Linked DNA regions of Homo sapiens. The protein of the gene in region 1 purifies or fractionates together with the protein of each later gene. This does not show direct contact. Each region holds a gene or a part of one and is shown on either strand. Other genes may lie near its edges. The genes, in order: ZC3H11A, MKRN2 and THOC2.

What was found.
Region 2: the proteins of ZC3H11A (region 1) and MKRN2 purify together in Homo sapiens (affinity purification with mass spectrometry; 2 studies listed by BioGRID and IntAct, with this or other methods). This does not show direct contact.
Region 3: the proteins of ZC3H11A (region 1) and THOC2 purify together in Homo sapiens (affinity purification with mass spectrometry; 2 studies listed by BioGRID and IntAct, with this or other methods). This does not show direct contact.

What each region holds. Positions count from the first base shown.
Region 1 is NC_000001.11:203,798,191-203,805,803, forward strand, and holds part of ZC3H11A (zinc finger CCCH domain-containing protein 11A), read left to right. Parts: coding exon of another isoform or gene 1-2,272; exon of another isoform or gene 2,273-3,384; 5' UTR 3,385-3,903; coding exon of another isoform or gene 3,904-4,002; 5' UTR 4,003-4,826; intron 4,827-7,613. Other genes in the region: ZBED6 (zinc finger BED domain-containing protein 6), read left to right, coding at 1-2,272; uncharacterized LOC128031836, read left to right, coding at 3,904-4,002. UniProt on the Homo sapiens protein: Through its association with TREX complex components, may participate in the export and post-transcriptional coordination of selected mRNA transcripts, including those required to maintain the metabolic processes in embryonic cells.
Region 2 is NC_000003.12:12,574,006-12,581,618, forward strand, and holds part of MKRN2 (E3 ubiquitin-protein ligase makorin-2), read left to right. Parts: intron 1-786; coding exon 787-1,001; intron 1,002-2,625; coding exon 2,626-2,736; intron 2,737-7,613. UniProt on the Homo sapiens protein: E3 ubiquitin ligase catalyzing the covalent attachment of ubiquitin moieties onto substrate proteins.
Region 3 is NC_000023.11:123,722,957-123,730,569, forward strand, and holds part of THOC2 (THO complex subunit 2), read right to left. Parts: intron 1-7,613. UniProt on the Homo sapiens protein: Component of the THO subcomplex of the TREX complex which is thought to couple mRNA transcription, processing and nuclear export, and which specifically associates with spliced mRNA and not with unspliced pre-mRNA.

The DNA.
Region 1 (7,613 bases):
AGATGATAATAGAATGGGCAAGAAGCATGATAAATCAGCATCTGATGCCCTAAGGGCAGAAAGAGGGAGATTTCTCATCAAAAGTAACATTGTCAAGCATGCTTTAATTCCTGGAACTAGAGCCAAGACATCTGCCGTTTGGAATTTTTTTTACACTGATCCTCAGCACATCTCAAGAGCTGTGTGTAATATATGTAAAAGAAGTGTGAGCCGGGGTAGGCCAGGGTCCCACTTAGGGACTTCAACACTTCAACGACACCTGCAAGCCACACATCCTATCCATTGGGCTGTTGCCAACAAAGACAGTGGTGCTGTTGCAAATGGATTAGATGAAGCTGAGACTGAGAGAAGTGATCTCTTGAGTGATACCTTGCATGGAGAAAAGTCTACAGGCAGCCAAGATTTAACAGCTGAGGACCTTAGTGACTCTGATTCAGATGAACCTATGTTAGAGGTTGAAAACAGATCTGAAAGTCCTATTCCCGTTGCAGAGCAAGGCACTCTGATGCGTGCGCAGGAGAGAGAAACAACATGTTGTGGAAATCCAGTCTCAAGTCACATAAGTCAGGCAATTATCCAAATGATTGTGGAGGATATGCATCCTTACAACTATTTCTCAACCCCAGCCTTTCAGAGGTTCATGCAGATTGTGGCCCCTGATTATAGGTTGCCATCAGAGACTTACTTTTTCACTAAGGCTGTACCTCAGTTATATGATTGTGTCAGAGAAAAAATTTTCTTAACTTTAGAGAATGTTCAAAGCCAAAAGATACACCTGACTGTTGACATATGGACCCATGACCCATCCACTGACTATTTTATTGTGACTGTACACTGGGTTTCTTTGGAAACTGCGTCTTTTCTCAATAATGGCAGGATCCCCGATTTTAGAAAGTGGGCAGTGCTTTGTGTTACAGGTTTGGCTAAAGACTGTTTGATAACCAATATTTTACAAGAATTAAATGACCAGATTGGTCTGTGGCTTTCTCCAAATTTCCTTATCCCTAGCTTCATTGTTTCTGACAATTCCTCTAATGTGGTACATGCAATCAAAGATGGTGGTTTTACCCATGTGCCATGCTTCCTGCATTGTTTAAATATGGTCATTCAGGACTTTTTCTGCGAGCACAAAAGCATTGAGAATATGTTAGTGGCTGCCAGGAAAACTTGTCATCATTTTAGTCATTCGGTCAAGGCCCGTCAGATACTGCAAGAGTTCCAAAATGATCACCAACTTCCATGGAAGAATTTGAAGCAGGACGAAACTGGCCATTGGATTTCTACTTTTTATATGTTAAAATGGCTCTTGGAGCATTGCTACTCAGTTCACCATAGTCTTGGTAGAGCCAGTGGAGTTGTGCTCACCTCCCTTCAGTGGACTCTAATGACTTATGTTTGTGATATTCTTAAGCCATTTGAGGAGGCTACCCAGAAAGTGAGCGTGAAGACCGCAGGATTGAATCAGGTGCTACCCCTAATCCATCATCTACTCCTTTCCCTGCAGAAACTCAGAGAAGATTTTCAAGTCAGAGGTATTACTCAGGCCCTCAATCTGGTGGATAGTTTATCTCTGAAACTTGAAACAGATACCCTACTAAGTGCCATGCTTAAATCCAAGCCCTGTATCTTGGCTACTTTGTTAGATCCTTGCTTTAAAAACAGTTTGGAAGACTTTTTTCCTCAAGGTGCTGATTTAGAAACTTATAAGCAGTTCCTTGCAGAAGAGGTCTGTAATTATATGGAATCTTCACCAGAGATCTGCCAAATTCCAACTTCAGAAGCTTCTTGTCCCTCAGTTACAGTGGGAGCTGATTCATTTACCTCATCTCTAAAAGAAGGCACCTCCAGTTCAGGTTCTGTTGATAGCTCAGCTGTAGACAATGTTGCCCTTGGAAGCAAAAGCTTCATGTTCCCTTCTGCTGTAGCAGTTGTGGATGAGTACTTCAAAGAGAAGTATTCAGAGTTCTCAGGAGGTGATGACCCTTTAATTTACTGGCAGAGGAAGATAAGCATATGGCCGGCTTTGACCCAGGTTGCCATCCAGTATCTAAGTTGCCCCATGTGTAGTTGGCAATCTGAATGTATCTTTACTAAAAATAGCCACTTTCATCCAAAACAGATCATGAGCCTGGACTTTGACAATATAGAACAACTGATGTTTCTGAAAATGAACTTGAAAAATGTTAACTACGATTATTCTACGTTGGTTCTGAGCTGGGATCCTGAGCAGAATGAAGTTGTTCAAAGCAGTGAAAAAGAAATACTGCCTTAATTTCTTTTTCTCCATTTAAAATGGGCAACTTTTTGCTGTGTTACTGTATCTTAATAGCTGTAGTTGTTAAATATAATCATTATCTTTATAAACACATCTGGGGAAACCTGAAATCACACAAGGGCTGAAAATTCCTCAGAGGCAATATAATTTTGATAAAATGAAGATTAAAGATTTCATAGCTATAACTGTGGCGCTAGCACTTGAAAATTTTGCTTATACCAATGAGAGAGAAGATATTTTTAATTAAAAAAAATATAGTGCAGCATTGAAAGGCCTTAGGCTTTCTTCCTGGTAGATTGAACTAGTAATTGGTTTTAAGTAAAACTTCCCCCACCATGGGAAATTTTATTGCTCTGAAATCAACGAAATGAGAAAAAAGTACACTGGCTGGCATTCCTCCTGCCCCTGTTTTTCTGTTTCCTTAAAAACCCTGATGCTTAATTACAACTTGGCAAAAAGAAAACCCGTGAAATTGTTTTATATTTGGAAATTTCTAATTGCCTCCTCATACTGGTCAGCTTTATAATTTCAAATTGTTGAGTGTGATAGTGTTACCCTTTAGAATTGGATCTTATATAAAAGGGAAATATTAGAAAACAATTAGGAAAATATACTTTTAGTCTTTGAAATGCCTGTTTTAACCTTTATAAAATATTATAAAAATAGATTGTGTAGGTACTTTCAAATAATTTATGGGTAAAAACAGACTAAAATGTTTGCAAGAATTGGAAAAGGTTGAATGGGAATTGTAATGAGAGCCCTTTGAACATGCTTGGAAAAACCCAGTAGACATTTCCCAAAGATTGTTTCTGTAATTTTAGGTAATCTTTTTAAAAACATACTTAATGACCCATTATACTGTATTAACTGTGCGGTTGTTTTGGCCACTGAATTCTTAATGAAAACTAAGCAGTCGGTATTTTTATGTGTTAGGAATCATTGGTGAAATGAGTGAATTGATCTCATTTTAAGATCCCTTTCTACTCTGAAAGTATGTTTCTGAGATTGAGTAGGAGGCCAGAAAATGATGACTTTTAGTAAAAGTCTATTAAAAGTTTCAGACTGAATAACTAATGTGAGATCCCAATTTTTCCTTTTTTTCATTTTAGATTTGGGGATATTCCCTGCCCAAAAAATTCCTGGAAAATTGACTAGTATTAAGTGTGAGTAAAAGGTGTCCACTTTTTTTTAAGTTTTGATTTTAGTTTTGTCTTGGATAGTATTTGGCAAGATTTAGCCTAGAAATTATGTAGTATTTATTACATAAGAATCAAAATTGCTTTGTTACTGGGCTGGTTTCAAAGTTTAGAACTCATTTCTATGTATCAAAATCGGGTTTTTTTTGGTTTTGATTTTTTTTTTTTTTAAATTCTTAAATGGTAAATATGCCATTGTGAAATGAAATCTCAACTCCAAAAGTTTACCCTTTTACTAACTGGAGTAAATGTATACTTACAAAGTCTTTAGCTGTAGCCATTAGTAGTAAAGAATTTGGACCTAGGCTGCGTAAGCAAGCCTTTCCAGGGCCACTATTTAATGGCAAACCAGTGATACTGGTGTTGATACAAAATAAGAAATAAATTTTCCCTTAGATAAAGCTTTCTGTGTTTTGACAGTGCCAGTTTAGAATGGCTATAATGCTGCTCTGCCTTCTACAGCTTGCTGCACCACTCTGTAGTTACTCTATTACCATACGTTTCTATCTTTTTTGGTTAAACACTCCCTGATGACGATGATGGATATATATACATACATCCATATTATACATAATGATATATGTGTAAGGATTTACCTTCGTCTTTATTTTGTGGGCTGGGCAAAATTTAGTGTAACAATAACTTCATGATACTTTGGTATAAGAGTAAGTTCTTTATTTTTATAATGAACCCAAATCTAAAGTCTTTTATAGTGCATTTTAAAAGGGGAAACTTATCCAAATGTTATATTTCTATACATTTTTGTGTATATGTGTGTGTGTATAAGCCAGTTAGTATATATCTGTATGTATATTATATACATAAAACACTATATTTTTACATACAAGTATGCTTTTATTATACAGATAATAAAGATGGGGGAAGGTTTCTGTTTTTTTCTTAATAGGTGAAGAAATCTTGAAGACCAGAAATTGGATCTTACTGAAAAACTGATGTTTTTTTGTTTTTTTTTTAAATTATATTGTTCAGCTATGGAAGATGGAGTTTTTTTTCATGATCCTTTAACTCTCAAGTTCATCTTTAAATGAACTCTTTTTTTTTGTTTTTTTTTTGTTTTGTTTTGTTTTGTTTTTGAGGAGATAACTAACCCTAGCTGTCTCCAGTCTGACAAAGGTTATTTGAATGGACTTAATCTCCCAGTAGTTGGGAGATGTTTTAAAAACACATGCTGTGTTTGAATTGTGGCTGAGAGGTTTTCTTGGCAATGTGAGGAGGAAATTTTTTTCTGCCTCATTATTATTAATTCATGGATTGAGTGTTGGTTCGACCTACAGGCGTAATAGATTGGAACTCAGTGAAGACACAGATGTTCCTGTTCAGAGCAACCAGCTAATGTAAGTGGGGAAGCAGGCATTTTTCGCATGAAAGGAGTGAACATTCTTGTCATTTAAGGCATAATTTTCATGGATCAGTAAGAAATTAAAAGGCCATTGTTCAGACATTTTTGCTTGTACATAATTGTTTACAAATTTTTAGTTTTGGGATGGAAACATATTTTTTTCTTTCTTTTCTTTTTTTCTTTTTTGGAGACGGAGTTTTACTCTTGTCCCCTAGGCTGGAGTGCAATGGTGCCATCTTGGCTCACTGCAACCTCCTCCTCCCAGGTTCAAGCAGTTCTCCTGCCTCAGCCTCCTGGGTAGCTGGGATTACAGATGTGCACCACTACACCGGATAATTTTTGTATTATTAGTGGAGATGAAGTTTCACCATCTTGGCCAGGCTGGTCTGGAATTCCTGACCTCAGGTGATCCACCAGCCTCAGCCTCCCAAAGTGCTGGGATTACAGGCATGAGCCACCGCCTCTGGCCCATAGTTTTTCTTTCTTTGTTTTGATAATATATGTACATTGTAAAAAAGGTAAAAACAGCATAGCCAAAGTGAAATCTTCCTGTAATTCCATCTCCTTGGAGAAAAGCACTGGGTTATTTTGTTTCGTTTTGAAACAGGGTCTTGTGCTCTGTCACTGAGGCTGGAGTGCAGTGGCATGATCATAGCTCACTGCAACGTCAAACCCCTGGGCTTAAGAGATCCTATTGCCGAAGCCTCCTGAGTAGCTGGAACTACAGGTGTGCCCCACTGTACCTGGCTACTTTTTAAAACCTTTTGTAGAGATGGAGTTGCTCTGTGTTGCCCAGGCTGTTCTCAAACTCCTGGGTTCAAGCAGTCTTCCTGCCTTGGCCAACCAGTGTTGGGATTACAGGTGTGAGCCACCATGCCTGGCCTCCCATTCCTTTTTAAATAATGATTCTAGATGATTTTATAATCAAGTTCCAGTAATAAACTCTAATTGGGATTTTGACTTGAATTACATTCGATGTGTGCATTATTTTTTGGGGAGAAGTAATTTCTTTAATCCTCTATTTATTCATTATCCAGGTCTTCTGTGCCTTAGTAGTTTCATAGTGTTTTGGTTTTGTTTTTAATTTAATGTGGGTCTTGCATACTTCTTCATTTTCTTCCTGTATATGTGTTTTTTTTTTTTTTTTTGAGACAGAGTCTCGCTCTGTCGCCCAGGCTGGAGTGCAGTGGCGTGATCTCGATTCACTGCAAACTCCGCCTCCCGGGTTCACGCCATTCTCCTGCCTCAGCCTCCCGAGTAGCTGGGACTACAGGCACCCGCCACCTCGCCTGGCTAACTTTTTTGTATTTTTAGTAGAGACGGGGTTTCACCGTGTTAGACAGGATGGTCTCCATCTCCTGACCTCGTGATCCGCCCGCCTCGGCCTCCCAAAGTGCTAGGATTACAAGCATGAGCCACCACGCCCGGCCCTTCCTGTATATCTTTTTATTGTGAATGGTCTCTTCCTGTATATCTTTTTACTGTGAGTGGTACTCTGCCATCATCTGAATGATTATTGCTGGTATGAAGGAAATTTACTGCTTCTTGTAGATCTTACATTTTTATTATTTTCAATTTGTTTTAGTTGATAGATTTTCTAGTTTGCAAGCATGTAATCTGCAGGTTCTGGATTTTTTTCTTTTTTGCCTCATCTTTTTTTTTTTTTTTGATATGGAGTATTGCTCTCGTTGCCTAGGCTGGAGTGCAATGGTGCTGTCTTGGCTCATTGCAACCTCTGCCTTCCAGGTTCAAGTGATTCTTCTGTCTCAGCCTCCCAAGTAGCTGAGATTACAGGCGCATGCCACCATGCCCGGCTGATTTTTGTATTTTTAGTAGAGATGGGGTTTCATCATATTGGCCAGGCTGGTCTCAAACTCCTGACCTCAGGTGATCTGCCCAACTCGGCCTCCTAAAGTGCTGGGATTACAGGCGTGAGCTATTGTGCCCGGCCTGTCTCGTCTTTTTAATATATGTTTGTAATTTATGCCTTTTTTTCCTTTTGAAAAAATTGAGTAAATAAATGTCCTATTCATCAAATATCAAGAAATATTCATTATTGATTTCAAGATGTAGTATTAAGGAAACCACAGAATCAAAATACCCACTTCTGATACAGTAGTGATTTTTTTTTTTTTTTTTGAGACAGAGTCTTGCTCTGTCGCCCAGGCTGTGGGGTGATCTTGGCTCACTGGACCTCCGCCTCCTGGGTTCAAGCAATTCTCCTGCTTCAGTCTCCCGAGAGTAGGACTACAGGCGCCCGCCACCACACCCGGCTAATTTTTTGTATTTTTAGTAGAGATGGGGTTTCACCATGTTGGCCAGGCTGGTCTCGAACTTCTGACCTTGTGATCTGCCTGCCTCAGCCTTTCAAAGTGCTGGGATTACAGGTGTGAGCCACCGCGCCCTGCCAGAATCAAGTTTTAGTACAAAGAAAGCATTTCCCAAGCAATGAGTCTCAAAGGAAAAAAATAGAAGAGCAATGTAATTAAACTTTCCTTCAAAGAAAGGACAGAAACGTATCTGTTACGGTAAATTTGGAAAGATCAGTATTTCATAGTCCCATAATATGTTTTACATGATGTACTTAAATGCAAATGTATGAAGCAGGGATCTGTGGCAATCCAAATTCATCCACCAGAACTCCATCCTTGTTTTTGTGACAGTGGGAACACCTTCTGGAATTGCAGGTGCAGATGCTGGCTCATCTAAATAGAACTCTTGGTCAGCCACAAGCTCATCACCCAGTGTATCCAACTCTGCTTCTAGGTTGTCTTCATCTAAT
Region 2 (7,613 bases), on another chromosome or scaffold:
TGGGATTACAGGTGTGAGCCACTGCACCTGGCCTAAGGCATGTTTAAATGGACAGCGTATTCCTAGATAATCAAGAGGTAAATTAGTACTGACTCCATGTGGCAGCGGACAAGGAGACACTCTCCATTGTCTTCCAGGGAAGCAGAGGGTTAGAGCTGTCTTCTTTATGCAAGTGTGTGAGGTCTCTGCGGTGAGTGTTGGCTTGTCTCAGATCTGGACAGACTGAGCTTACAAGGGCTGGGCCTAGGTCTTCTCACTCTTGCTCAAATGCCAGCACATAGAAGGAATTCAGGGCATGCCTAGTGAATGAATGAATTCATTGAATCATTTTCTTGGGGAGAAGTGGTGCTTCTTACATAGGACTAGGCTGCCAGCCTCAAGCCTCATGGTAAGGACGAGTCAGCATCTCTGATGTAGACATGGCTCAGAGTCGGGGGAAACAGTGCCCAGAGGAGCTGGGGGACTAGGGCCGCAGTCCTTACGGACTCTGACTCCACTGCAGTTTAACCTTTTTGGATCTCCGTGTTCTCAGTCCTAAATGGGTGGTGACCATGTCACCTCCTAGGAAAGCAAGGGGCTGGACCAGTGATGGTTTGAAGTCCTTTGTGTGGTCTGAGGGAGATGTCAGTGTCCTGACTTGGGGGAGCCTGGGCCTTTGCTCACAGCAGTCGCTGTCAGTGTTCCTTCCTGATCTCAGCTGTGGCAGTGTGGCTGCAGCTACTCCTAGGGCTCCTGCCACTCCTCAGTGGCCCACAACCAAAGCCTTCCTTCCTGTCTGTGCTTCAGATCTGCATGTTGACGTTCGAACACGAGATGGAAAAGGCCTTTGCCTTCCAGGCAAGCCAGGACAAAGTGTGCAGTATCTGCATGGAAGTGATCCTGGAGAAGGCCTCTGCTTCTGAGAGGAGATTTGGGATTCTCTCCAATTGCAATCACACGTACTGTTTGTCCTGCATCCGGCAGTGGCGGTGTGCCAAACAGTTTGAAAACCCAATCATTAAGTAAGTACAGCCAGGGGTCTTAGCTGTGGGAGCTAGGAGAATGTTTGATTTGAGACTTTATTCCGTCCACTTTTAAGCCCTCCGTTACCCTCAAGAGTAACTGGTGAGTTCTGGCCCCTGGCTGCATGAACTTCAGCAAGTCATTTACTCTTCCTGAGCCTAAGTGCCTGTTCCTATAAAAGATGGGCAACAATTCCTACCAAGCTTTCTGGGTGTTGGGGAGGAACTCAGCAAAGATGATCTGTGTAAAAAGGTGTTAAATGGCACTGACCTGTTTTCATCTCCTAGCCTTGTGTTTGAAATCCAGTAGTACCTGCCTGTAGCCCAGTTGCCTGTTAATCATTTTGAGCTTCGTTTTTTCCCCCCACCAAAAACGAAAATAGGGTTATTTGAGGATGAAGTGGAATAATGCATGTAAAACATTCTGCATGATGCCTGGCACATGGGATGTGCTCAATGTGGCCAACATAGGAGTCTCAAATTCTCCAGCAGGACAGGGGAAGAGCTGGCATGTGGAGAGGTTACTGCACGCGTTCTACTGTTCAGAACTCCACATCTGTCCGCTCATCTCATTCCCTCAAAGACCCTCCTCAGTTACAGATTAGGAAACAGGCCTGGGGTGCGGGGGTCAAGTAATTTGCCTAAAATCGTGTGGTGAAACAACTGCTCTATTGAGATAAAAGCCCACAATTTAACTCACCACTCATCCGCTTTCTGTCTCTACAGAGTTGCCTATTCTGGACACTTCTTATAAATGGAATCATAGAATTTGGGGCCTTTTGTGCCTGGCCCCTTTCACTGAGCATAGTGTTGTCAGAGTTCATCCCGACTGTAGCATGTGCCAGAGTCCCCTTCTCCTGGCGGAATATGTTCCATTGTATGGACGCAGCACATTTCCCTTATCCATTCCTCAGCTAGTGGACATTTAGGCTGTTTTAACTTTGCAACTATTATGAATAATGCTGCTGTCAACATTTGTGAACACAGCATGTGGGCATGTGTTTTCATTTCTCTTGGGTATACACCTGGGCGTGGGATTGCTAGGTTTTATGGTATAATAACTCTACATTAAACTGTTGGAGAATCTGCCAGACTCTGTTCAAAGTGGCTGCACCCTTTTACATTCTCACCAGCAATGTATGAGGGTTATTTCATCTGTCTTTTTTGTTGAGGAAACCATATATGTGTGTGTGTGTGTGTGTGTGTGTGTGTGTGTGTGTGTGTATTTTTTTTGCTTTAAGTTCTGGGGTACATGTGCAGAATGTGTAGCTTTGTTACATGGGTATCCATGTGCCACGGTGGTTTTCTGCACCTCTCAACCCATCACCTAGGTTTTCAGCCATGCATGCATTAGCTGTTTGTGCTGATGTTCTCCCTCCCCTTGCCCCTGCACCGACAGGCCCCGGTGTGTGATGTTCCCCCACATGTGTCCATGTGTTCTCATTGGGAAACCCTATTTTGTTAATAGTAAATAAGGTTCTTGGATGATTGTGATTTCATCTTTTGGAATTTCTGGTGAAGGAAATGCCTGTAGTGGTGAGGCAGTTGAGCAAGAGGTTTAGCAGAGAGTGTGCCCAGGCTTCGTAACATGACTTCTCCCTTAGTAATCTAATTCTTATTTCAGGTCTTGTCCAGAATGCCGTGTGATATCAGAGTTTGTAATTCCAAGTGTGTATTGGGTGGAAGATCAGAATAAAAAGAACGAGTTGATTGAAGCTTTCAAACAGGGGATGGGGTAAGTGCTTTTGAGTTTCGACGTGCCCCTGCTGCCTGCCTGGCTCTGCTGTCAGCCCGTGTCCTCGTTCTCCTTCCCAGGAGTGTGGTCTTAGGGGCCTCTTCCTCTCTTCCTTCTCTCAGGCACCATGCTGGGCTCTGGGATGCAGCAATGAGCAAGGACATGGTGATGTGGACCTGTTTAGTTTTGGTGTTTTTTTTTTTTTTTTTTTTTTTTCGGTGAGATAGGGTCTCACTCTGTTGCCCAGGCTGGAGTGCAGTGGTGCAATCTCAGCTCACTGCAGCCTCAGCCTCCTGGGCTCAAGCAGGAGCCTCTTGAGTAGCTGGGGCCACCAGTAGTGTGCGCCACCATGCCCAGCTAATTGGCTAATTTTTTTTGGTAGAGACAAGGTTTCGCCATGTAGCCCAGGCTGGTCTTGAACTCCTAGGCTCAAGTGATCCTCCTGCCTCGGCCTCCCAAAGTGCTGGGATTACAGGCATGAGCCACCGTGCCCGGCCTCAAATGTTCCTCTTTATCCTGGTTGTCAGCATGTTGATATTTTGCCTAGGAGTGGAGTGGTTTTTCTCTACGCTTATGTCACTCCCCAAGATGAGCGAAATTTTAGCTATTGTTTCATTAACTTTTTTTCTGTCTTGTTTTTTTCTTTTCCTGCTGGGACTCTACTTCCGTTTATGATAGTTTTTTTATATTGTTCATAGATCTCTGGGGATATTCATTCTTTTTCAATCTTTTTTTCTTTTCATCTCCTTGAACATAGTTGTAGCAGCTACTTTGAAATCCTTGTTATCTTGAAGTTGACCTCTGTTGTCTTTTAAGAATGGATCACATTTTCCTGATTCTTCGTATGTCTAGTAATTTTAGATTTTATCCTTGACATTGTAAATATTACATTGTAGAGAGACTTAGGATTCTGTTATGGTTTATCTGTAAAGTGATGATTTTTTTTTTTTTGAGACGGAGTTTCACTCTTGTTGCCCAGGCTGGAGTGCAGTGGCACAATCTCGGCTCACTGCAACCTCTGCCTCTCGGGTTCAAGCGATTCTCCTGCCTCAGCCTCCCGAGTAGCAGGGATTACAGGCATGCACCACTGCACCTGGCCAATTTTTTGTATTTTTAGTAGAAACGGGGTTTCACCATGTTAGCCTGGCTGGTCTCAAACTCCTGACCTCAGGTGATCCGCCCACCTCGGCCTCCCAAAGTGCTGGGATTACAGGCATGAGCCACTGCGCCTGGCCAAGTGTTGCTGTTTTTAACAGGCAGGTAAATTGTTTGAACTCAAACCCAGGTAGCAGTTCAGATCTCAGTTCTGGTTTTGCATTCGTAGCTGACTTTGTCGCATTCCTGTGTGGTTTGGGAGTTAGTCAGATTTGGGCAGAGTTTATACACAGCCTTTGAGCACTTTTTCACAGGCCCCTTACTTTGTGGGATTGCTTCCTCACTTTCCAATGGCTGTGATTTCCTTGAACTCTTGTCTTTTAGTTCTTCAGGCCAGAAAGATTGGATTTCCCCTTGGAGTTTTAGCCACCCCATGTGGTTATGATTTTGGCCTGCTCCAGGATAAGAGCTACTTCTTTTTTTTTTTTTTTTTTTTTTTTTGGAGATGGAGTCTTGCTTTGTAGCCCAGGCTGGAGTGCAGTGGCACAGTCTCAGCTCACTGCCACCTCCGCCTTCCAGGTTCAAGCACTTCTGCCTCAGCCTCCCAAGAAGGTGGGACTACAGGCGCATGCCGCCACGCCTGGCTAATTTTTGTATTTTAGTAGAGACAGGGTTTCACTGTGTTTCCCAGGCTGGTCTTGAACTCCTGAGCTCAGGCAATCCACCTGCCTCGGCCTCCCAAAATGCTGGGATTACAGATGTGAGCCACAAAAGCTACCTTTTTTAAAAAAGGTAACTTAGCCTTTGCCATTGCTATTCTTCTTTGTGTTTACTCCTCCAAAGAATCTAACTGCGTTTGTTCATTCTCTGGTGCCTTCAGGTCTTCTTGAAATATTTGTGTTAAGACTTATCTGCAGGAGGGTTGGGTATGGCAGGCGTTTACTTGTCATACTAAAAGTGAAACTATGCATTACCTTTTTTAATGGTTCCTTTATGTTGCATATTAGTTTACTAAAGCTTGATTTTTTTTTTTTTTTTTTTTTTACCATTTTTTCCTCATACAATCTTCCTGTGTGTCCACAAGAGGGCAAGGCGTGGCAAGCAGAGGGGTCCCAGCTTGTAGAAAAGGGCCCCAGCCTGTAGAAAAGGGTCCCAGCCTGTAGAAAGGGGCTCTGCTGAAAAGCAGTCTGGAGATTGTTATTGCTATTTGGATCTTTCCTTGCTTTGCTTTCCTTTAATGACTGTGTTTTTTGCAATCCACAAACATTTACTGAGTACTCACTATGGGTCAGGTACCTTCTAGCTAAGCACCACTGGGGGATGTAGAGATTAGTAAGACAATTTCTTTTTTCTTTCGAGTCTCGCTCTGTCACCCAGGCTGGCAGTGGCATGATTTCAGCTCACTGCAACCTCCGCCTCCAGGGTTCAAGTGATTCTTCTGCCTCAGCCTCCCGAGTAGCTGGGATTACAGGTGTGCGCCACGACACCCAGCTAATTTTTGTATTTTTTTAGTAGGGATGGGGTTTCGCCATGTTGGCCAGGCTGGTCTTGAACTCCTGGCCTCAGATGATCTACCCACCTCAGCTTCCCAAAGTGCTAGGATTATAGGTGTGAGCCACTGTGCCCCGCCAAGTAAGACAACTTCATGGGAAACTGCAAAAGGGCAATTATGATACAGGTTTGCTGGTGACCAGTTCTTCATGAGGGACCATCTATCACAACAGAGAAAGCACTTGGATCCACCGGGGGCTGCCAGGGGAAGCAGCATGGGAGCCTGAACCATGAAGCAGGAAGCACCTGTCTGTAGGGGGAAGTGATGGAAGGACATGGGCACAGAAGGGTGTAGGTTTTGTGTCTGGGGGACACTGGGAGTGGCTCCTGGCATTGAAACAGGTGTGTAGAAGGATGTGGTGGGACCTACAGACTGGAATCTAAGGGACACTTGAATCCCAGTGTGACCATGGTCTTTAAGAACAGGTTGGGGCCAGGCGCAGTGGCTTATGCCTGTAATCCCAGCACTTTGGGAGGCTGAGGAGGGCAGATTGCTTAAGTCCAGGGGAGACATAGGGAGACCTCATCTCTTTAAAGAAAAAAAAAAGGTTGGGAAGCTCCTCCGTGCTGCTCTGAAGGTGGAAACTGGTGGGAGTGGGAGGGAGGCCAGTGAGGAAGTGGCCCTGGCAGGCAGGCCCCAGAGGCTTCCACAAGTGTGGGAACCCAAAGGAAGGGGAGATTGGGAAGTGATTTGTAAACAGAATGAACACAGTTGGGTGTGAGAGCCGAGGACACAGAGTGAGTCAGAGTGAACTGGAGGCTTTTGGCCTTGGTGACCAGATAAGCCTGGGGGAGGAAAAAGAGTAATATTCTTGTGAGAGTGGGGGACCAGTATATAATGTGTTTGACCTGATCGAGTTCATAGCCAGTGTGCTAGGATGCTCTGGAGTTGTCCAGCAGGCTCTGGTGAGAGCAAACTGCTCACGGTCATTTGAAGTCCGCTCAGAACTCCAGGCAAGCAGGGGCCTGGAGGATGTGTCGTCCACACACCTGCTCTCCAGCCACCTGTGCTCAAATCAGATCAGCTGGCCAGGGAGCTTGTTCTCTCTCCCCCCACCCTACCCCCCCGCCACCACCCCCAGTGAGACGAAGTCTCACTCTGTCTCCCAGGCTGGAGTGCAGTGGCACAATCTTGGCTCACTGCAGCCTCCACCTCCTGGGTTCAAGCAATTCTCCTGCCTCAGCCTCAGCCTCCCGAGTAGCTGGGATTACAGGTGCCAGCCACCACACCCAGCTCATTTGTGTATTTTTAGTAGAGATGGGGTTTCGCTGTGTTGGCCAGGCTGGTCTCAAACTCCTGACCTCAAGTGATCCACCCACCTTGGCCTCCCAAAATGCTGGAATTACAGGTGTGAGCCACCACACCCGGCCAGAGGGCTTTTCTTTATGCTGCTATGAAGCCGTCCTCAGAGAACTTCACCACCGGCCTGCGGCCATCCCATCTGACAAGACGGAAAACCACTGGATTCAGGAGCCTCCTTTCCCTGTTCTTGTCTCCCGCTGTCACACACCCCAGCTGCCCCTGACAGCAGCGTGCCCTTTCTGTTGTTTGGCTTTATTTCTGTGACTTTCCCCTTCCTCTGTACTCCGAGATGGCCCTCTGGATTCTTGGGTATCTTTTTTTTTTTAACTTCAGTTTGGGATCCTTTATGATTGGATAAACCAGAGTTCATTTGAGCAAAATGGGAATTCATTTGATTGAGTTTCCTTGGGCAGGGTTCTTAACATAGAGGTCTGTGGGGAGAATGGTAGAATTAAGAGAGAGGGAAAACATTTTGAACTGTTTGGTCACTGTATGCTGTAGACCCATGTTTTATGCATTGAAAAACACTGTTCAGAGAAGGGGTCCAAAGCACATAAGGCGTGAAGAAGCCCTCCCTGGTGCCGAGGTTGGAGACAGGAAAACTGGAAGGAGACCTATGGCTTTAGGCAGTTGCTAAAACCCTCTGCTTTCCCTGTAGCCACCTTGACAGCACTGCGGCCAGGAGGAAGGGGAGAGTTGGCTTGGTGGGGTACCTAGGGAACTTTGAGCAGAGACAAGTGGCCCAGCTTCAGAGCTTAGTGCCCAGAGGAGTGACCAGGCCTGGCTTAGCTCTGTGGTGACCCAGGAGGTGCTCTGGAGCTGCCGGAGGGCCTGTGGAGCACTGCAGTCTCCACACAGCAAGTCCCCAGGCAGGTTAATATCCTTTGCAAGGCTGCAGGTAAGTGGGGATACTTCCTATCCTGCTTGG
Region 3 (7,613 bases), on another chromosome or scaffold:
TCATCGGAGGTCCGGAGTTCAAGACCAGCCTGCCCAACATGGTGAAACCCTGTCTCTACTAAAAACACAAAAATTAGCCAGGTGTGGTGGCACACACCTGTAATCCCAGCTACTCAGGAGGCTGAGGCACAAGAATCGCTTGAACTCGGGAGGCAGAGGTTGCAGTGAGCCAAGATCACGCCACCACCGCACTCCAAACTAGGCGACAGAGCAAGACTCTGTCTCAAACAAACAAAAAAAAAGAAGTACTCCAAATGACCAATAACATATAAAAAGATGCTCATGGAAATATAAGCCACAGTAAAATTACATACATATTTACAAAAAATTTAAGTCTGACAATATCAAACATAGTGACAATGTGAAACAAGGTCAACTCATACACTGCTGGTGGGAGTGTACACTGAAATAGCCTGGCAATATCTAACAGAGCTAAAGTGTAACCTATAACCCAGAGATTCTACACCTAGTATATACTCCACAAAAACACATGCTTGTATACACCAAAACTGTTGTATAATAATGTTTCTATTGGCACTGTTAGTAATAGCCAAAAACTAGACGCAACAAAAATGTTTAACAAGACAGCATAAAAATAAACAAATACTGGTATACGATGGAGTATCTTGCAACTATGAAAATGAATGAACTAAAAAAAAAAGGAAAATCAATGAACTGCAAACATACAATATGGATGAATCTTAAAAGTCATAACTGTTGAACAAAAGCAGCCAGAAACAGTAGGATAAATATTCAATGATTTCATTTATATGAAGTTCAAGAAAAAAATTAAACATATTGGGTAATGACACTGCAAAGAAAATCAAGAAAGTTTCTTTGAGTTGAAGATGCAAGGTTAAAAAAAGAGAAAAATCAAGAGGAAAACCATAAATGTCAGGATAATGTTTACTACATGAGAGGTGGGAAAGGTTTGATCGGGAACAAACAGTATGTTGCCTTGACCTGGGTGTAAGTTACATGGGGGTGCATCTTACAGTGATTATTTTAAGCTCTATATTGAGGTTTCATGACTTCTCTGTATTTTCATTACATTTCACAATTTAGAAAAAAATTCTTCCATGTTGCACAAGGCTTTAAAGAGAGCCAATGAATTCATATAGAAGAGTTTCTTACTCTTTTATATCTAGTAATCCTTTTTCTAGTCAATGAAACAAATAATTTTAAGACTTACAGAACCTGCTTATATATCACATCTAAGGCTAAATAAGATGCCAGATTACAATCATCCACAGAGAGATTATCTACTTTGCAGATTATACATAACCTTGCAGCTCACCTCTGTGCCTTCTGATTATGTCAATACCCTATCATCAGGATGAGCAGGGTAAGGTTATTAAAAGTCAACAGAGTAAACTTTTGCTGGTCAACAATTCACTTCTAGGTTTCACAAATATGTTCAAAACCAAAAAATAAAAAGGCAATGGAAGCCGGGCACTGTAGCTCACACCTGTAGTCCCAGAACTCTGGGAGGCTAAGGTGGGTGGATCAGTTGAGGTCAAGAGTTTGAGACCAGCCTGGCCAACATGATGAAACCTCGTCTCCACTAAAAATACAAAAATTAGCTGGACGCAGTGGTGCGCACCTGTAATCCCAGCTACTCTACAGGCTGAGGCAGGAGAATCGCATGAACCCAGGAGGCAGAGGTTGCAGTGAGCCAAGACTGCATCACCGCACTCCAACCTGGGCAACAGAGCGAGACTCTGTCTCAGAAAAAATAAAAATAAAAAATAAGGGCAATGGAGAGCATCTACTAAATTAAATATTTAGTTTGAAAATGTCAGGCCAGGCATAGTAGCTCACGTCTGTAATCCCAGCACTTTGGGAGGCCAAGGTGGGTGAATCACTTGAGCTCAGGAGTTCGAGACCAGCCTGGTAATATCACCTGAGCTCAGGAGTTCAAGACCAGCCTCGTAACGTGGTGAAACCCTGTCTCTACCAAAAACACAAACAATTAGCAGAGCATGGTAGCACGCGCCTGTGGGCCCAGCTACTCAGGAGGCTGAGGTGGGAGGATCGCCAGAGCCCAGGAAGTTGAGACTGCAGTGAGCCAAGATCACACCAGTGAGCCATGATCGCACCACTGCACTCCAGCCTGCACTCCAGGGTGACAGAGCAAGATCCCATCTCAAAAACAAAAACAAAGAAAGAAAATGTCATTTAGCTATTAAACATTTCTCACTAAAAAAATTATTCTGAGAGTACCTTACAAATGGTAAGCTGGTTTAAGTTTGATCCCAAGTACTTTCAACTACTTCCCTGGAGAACTAGACAGGCCTTCTAATGGGTTGAGAAGAGAACAGTGGTTGGTTAAGAACACTGGTTAAAGTTGGATATGCTGGCTCATGCCTGTAATCCCAACACTTTGGGAGGCCGAAGTGGGAGGATCACTTGAGCACAGGAGTACAAGACCAGCCTAGCCAGCCTAGCCAACAAGTGAGACCCCATCTCTACAAAAAAAAAAAAAAAATAGAAAAAAAAAGTAGCCAAGTGTGGTGGCACATGCCTATAATCCCAGCTACTTGGGAGGTTGAGCTGGGAGGATCACTTGAGCCTGCAGGTCGAGGCTGCAGTGAGTGGTGATCGTAGTACCACTGCACTCCAGCCTGGGCAGCCTGGGGAACAGAGTGAGACCCTATCTCAAAAAAAAAAAAAAAAAAAAAACCACGATTAAGCTTCTAATTTCACAAAATACGTTAAACCTAACATAAGTTTATCTGGAATATAAAACAAAATCAATCTTCCTTCCACCAGGCAACACAGAAATAACATCTGCTTCAGACTAGCATCAGAAGATATAACCTAAAAATGCCATCTAGGTCTTTTGTGGAGAGGAGATATATAAGTATATCAAGGTTGCTTCAATATTTACTATGAAGTATTAAAACAATTCCCTCTTTGGGTTCTCATTTCCCTTATAGGGTCAATTCTCTTTAGAATATAATAGCAGGGGCCAGGCACCGTGGCTCACACCTATAATCCCAGCACTTTTAAGAGGCCGAGGAGGGCAGATTACTTGAGGTCAAGAGTTTGAGACTAGCCTAGCCAATATGGTGAAACCCCGTCTCTACTAAAACTACAAAAATTAGCCGGGCTTGGTGGCCAATGCCTGTAATCCCAGCTACTCAGGAAGCTGAGGCAGGAGAATCACCTGAACCCAGGAAGCGGAGGTTGTAGTGGGTCGAGATCGCACCACTGCACTCCAGCCTGGGCGACAGAGTGAGACTCTGTCTCAAAAAAAATAATAATAATAATAGCAGGAAGCACCATGTCTTTGAAAGAAGAATTTAACAGAATAAAGTAACTCATCTTTCCCTTTGTACTCGGGCTACTAAAATGCAATTTCAAATATTCCTTCATATAGAAAAAGAGAAAAAAGAAAAAGAGGAAAGGAAAAGGAAAGGATGAGAAAGAAAGAGAAATAAAATAATTGTTTAAAATTCCTCCTTATTCACTTGAGCCCAGGAGGTCAAGGCTGCAGTGAGCCAAGATCGTGCCACTGCACTCCAGCCTGGGCAACAGAGTGAGACCCTGTCTCAAAAAAAAAAAAAAAAAACTTCTCCTTATAACAATGCACTTGCTTCCTCACATTTTCAATAGTTTCATTTCTATTTAACAATCTTAATGCATGTCTTTTGCAAAAAGCCTTCCAATGGTTGCGGGGAAGAGGTTGCATCAGTGTTGCAAACTCCTACCTAGACTAATGGTACAGTCATCATTACATAACTTTAAGAAATAATTGAAATATAATTCTATATTGTCAGTCACCAGGCTACAAACATGTTCATTAGGACACAGATGACAATGTCATCATGAACTATTAGTTAGAATCTCAAAGATTTGCTCAAGTTGCATATGGAACCATTGAAAGGTTATTACAATAAGGCAATTTGTTTGCATAATAGATACTTACATTTCCCTAGTATAAAAGAGGTATTCCTTTGGCTGGGCGTAGTGGCTCATGCCTGTAATCCCAGCACTTTGGGAGGCTGAGGGGGGAGGATCACTTGAAGCCAGGAGTTTATGACCAGCCTGGGCAATATAGCAAAACCCCATCCCTACTCATACACCCGCACAAAAAAATGTTTTTAATTAGCCAGGCATGGTGGCATGCACCTGTAGCCCTAGCAATTCAGGAGGCTGAGGCAGGAAAATCCCTTGAGCCTGGTGGGGTCAAGCCTGCAGTGAGCCGTGATCGCCTGCACTCCAGCCTAGGTGACAAAGCAAGACCCTGTCTCAAAAAAAACTTAGTTAAAAATAAATTTTTTAATAAAAAAAAAACAGGTATTCCTTAGTTATAACAAGAAACTAAAAACAAACACTGAGATTTTTCCCCAACAAGTAGATGTATCTGTGCTCTTCTCCCTAAGTAATTCACTAATAGAAGTCCACCAAGGATTCTTAAAGAAACTGTTTCTGAACATTACATTTGTCTTACTATACACCTGCCTAATGGTTTTAGGTCACTAACCTAAATTATAGGGAGAGGAAAAAACAAAACTACCTCTAATAGTTGCCCACTTTAATATCGCTTAAAAATAATCAAATTTTCTGTCTCAGTCCAAATTGAAATTATTTTAATCCCTTAATAACTTTCAAATACTTGAGTTTACCATTTTTCCACTTTTTAATTTAATTTTTTAAAAATAAAAATAGAGATAGGTTCTCGCTATGTCGCCCAGAGCTCTCCTGGGCTCAGGCAATCCTTCCTCCTGCCTCAGTTGCCCAAGTAGCTGGGATTACAGGTGTGTGCCACAGTGCACACCACCTTACATGCCACCACGCCAGGCATTCATTTTTTCTACTTTTAAAATAGTTTAGTGCTATTATGGAGATGCTGTCTCAGGTCCCTGAGAATGAGGACAGAATCTACTTTCTGTCAAAAGATGTATGGAAAACTGAATAAAATGTCTGAAGTTCCTTCAAGGACTTAAAAGGTATTTTGTGAATACTTCTTAACATGAGTATACGGCTTTTCATCTTACTTGTTCCCATTTTCCAGTAAAAAGGAAACAGAGTCACAAGCTTAAACTACTTGATTATGCTCACATCTCAAATGTGGCTTTCATATATAGAAGGCTGATGTTCATTTACGCTTCACTTAATTCTTTAAAACAAGACAACAAAAAGGTTAAATGTAGTTAAATAAAGTGCTACCTCTATTATCATTTGTAGAACAGAAACATAACCCACAAAAATGAATACTGGGACAACACAGTTTTATCTTGTAGAAACATGCATTTAAAAGAAAAGGAAACAGGAAATGTTAAAAAAAAAAAAGACAACAGGAGTTGCCGCACTTACAGTAGGAAAAAAGCACAAGTATATTGACAGCACTCACCCTACCTAAACGTTAGAGCATTACAGAATAATTTTTTTTAACAAACAAAGTAGTAGCCTATACAACCTCCTGACATTGCTTCAACATTTTGTGAAGAATGTTTCTCTTCCCAGGAAAACAGACTAAGACTTATACTTAGCTTATGAATACAGGTCGAAATGGGAAATTAAATGCTAAATGAAAACTGAGACATCAAGAAAAGGTTTCAGATAAAGCTTTGGCTGAATTTGGAGCAACTTTGCGAGGAAAAAAGACTCAACCACCAAGACTAAAATTTCTTAGAATGATTATATCCCTTTACCTGGAATCCTCCAAGAAATTCAGATCAGATGGCATGTTCTGAACAACCAAATATACTTAAATAAGTTCTAGAATGTCTAAAATCATGTAGTAGCAGAAGAAGAAAAAGAACAACAATCAAAACATTTGGCAATTAAATTTTAAAACTTTATTGTAACTACCATTAATAAGGTAAGACCTAACAAAACTTTCTAATTGATACCTAAATAAGCTATTCAAACAAACAGATGATATTCAACAAACGTAAGTATTTCAAAATTAGACTAAGTATTAACATGAGGCTAGCATCTTCAGATTAAGAGCTTCGAATATCAATTCTCCATTAAGGTTGCCTGTAACAAAGAAATGCTGAGTTCACTGTGTTAATGATTTCTACCAAAAACAGAATTCTACACTGGATCTACCAGTACATGCAAGTTTATTAGCTTCATCATGGCAAGTTCTACGTCAATATAAAATAATCAAGAAACTAAAACTAATTCCAAAATTAAGTGATTAAATACATATCTTTCAGAATTTGGAAGAGTTTGCATTTAGATATAAGTATTATTGGAAATTACAATTACATTTTGGTAGTCCTCCTTTGCCCTTCTGATCCCTCTTTAAGATCACTTTAAAGGTCACTCTTTAAGAGTTCTATAATTTAGCATTAAAAACATAATTGGTATCTCTGGAAACATAATGGGATATCTAGATATGTGATGGATGGACCATTCAGATAGGCAAAATACAGTTTTACTTTTCTCTCTAATTACCTAATAAAACATTCTTCAAAGTCAAGACCTTCCATTTAATAGACAGTTGTTTTTCATGGCGTACAGTTAAGAATTTGCCCTATCTGAAAGTTATAAAATGCCCCATACATCTCTTATGTTGCTTTCAACACTAGCTGACTACCACCCCCAGAAAAGATTTATGCTGGTAAGAAGTGACAGACAAGAAATGAATTAACAACCTCATGAAATATATCACATTATTTTTAAAAAGATAATTTTCAGTCAAGTTAAAGCTTATCTGCTAATTTATCTTGTTAAAAAGGAAAAATTCACCCAAGGTATAATTTTAAATATTGGTCATATTCTAAACGCCAAATCTATAGCTTCACTAATAATGTGGTGGCACACTACCTTCATTTTTAACATTTCCAGTTGCTGTTTTATATTTCAGAAGCTGTTTTCAGACAAAGGAAAAAGGTTTTTTGTAATATATTTGCACCACCACGTATTCTGCCTAGTAATATGAAAATGCTAACACCTATCTTTAGGAAGACACAAAAACTCCAAAGACATGCTATATGCAACAAAGTTTCATAGAGGGAAAACAGGTCAAATAAACTGAAACTAAGTACTGGATGGTGATGTGTTTAACTATTTAAAATAGCTTATTATGTTACACAATTTTAAATTCTCTTCCTGTAACAGAATGCAATCATAAAACTGACTATACTGATTTGGATCTACTATAATTCAATCCACATTCCACAAGTCATGCAATAACTACATACACGTAAGTTCTAATAACAGGTTTTTTTGCTGTTGTTTTTGGTTTGTTTTTGTTTGGGTTTTTGTTTTTTTTTTTTTTTTAAAGAGTTTCGCTCTTGTTACCCATGCTGGAGTGCAACAGCGCGATCTCCGCTCACCGCAACTTCCGCCTCCCAGATTCAAGCGATTCTCCCGCCTCAGCCTCCTGAGTAGCTGGGATTACAGGCATGTGCCACCACGCTCGGCAAATTTTGTACTTTTAGTAGAGATGGGGTTTCTCCATGTTGGTCAGGCTTGTCTGGAACTCCTGACCTCAGGTGATCCACCCGCCTCGGCCTCCCAATTTGCTGGGATTACAGGCGTGAGCCACCACGCTCGGCTTCTAATAACAGTTTTTAAGCAGCTCTTCAAACATAAGAACTATGACAGATAGCATGTATTATGTAAATATACATAATGTGAACCTAAAATTC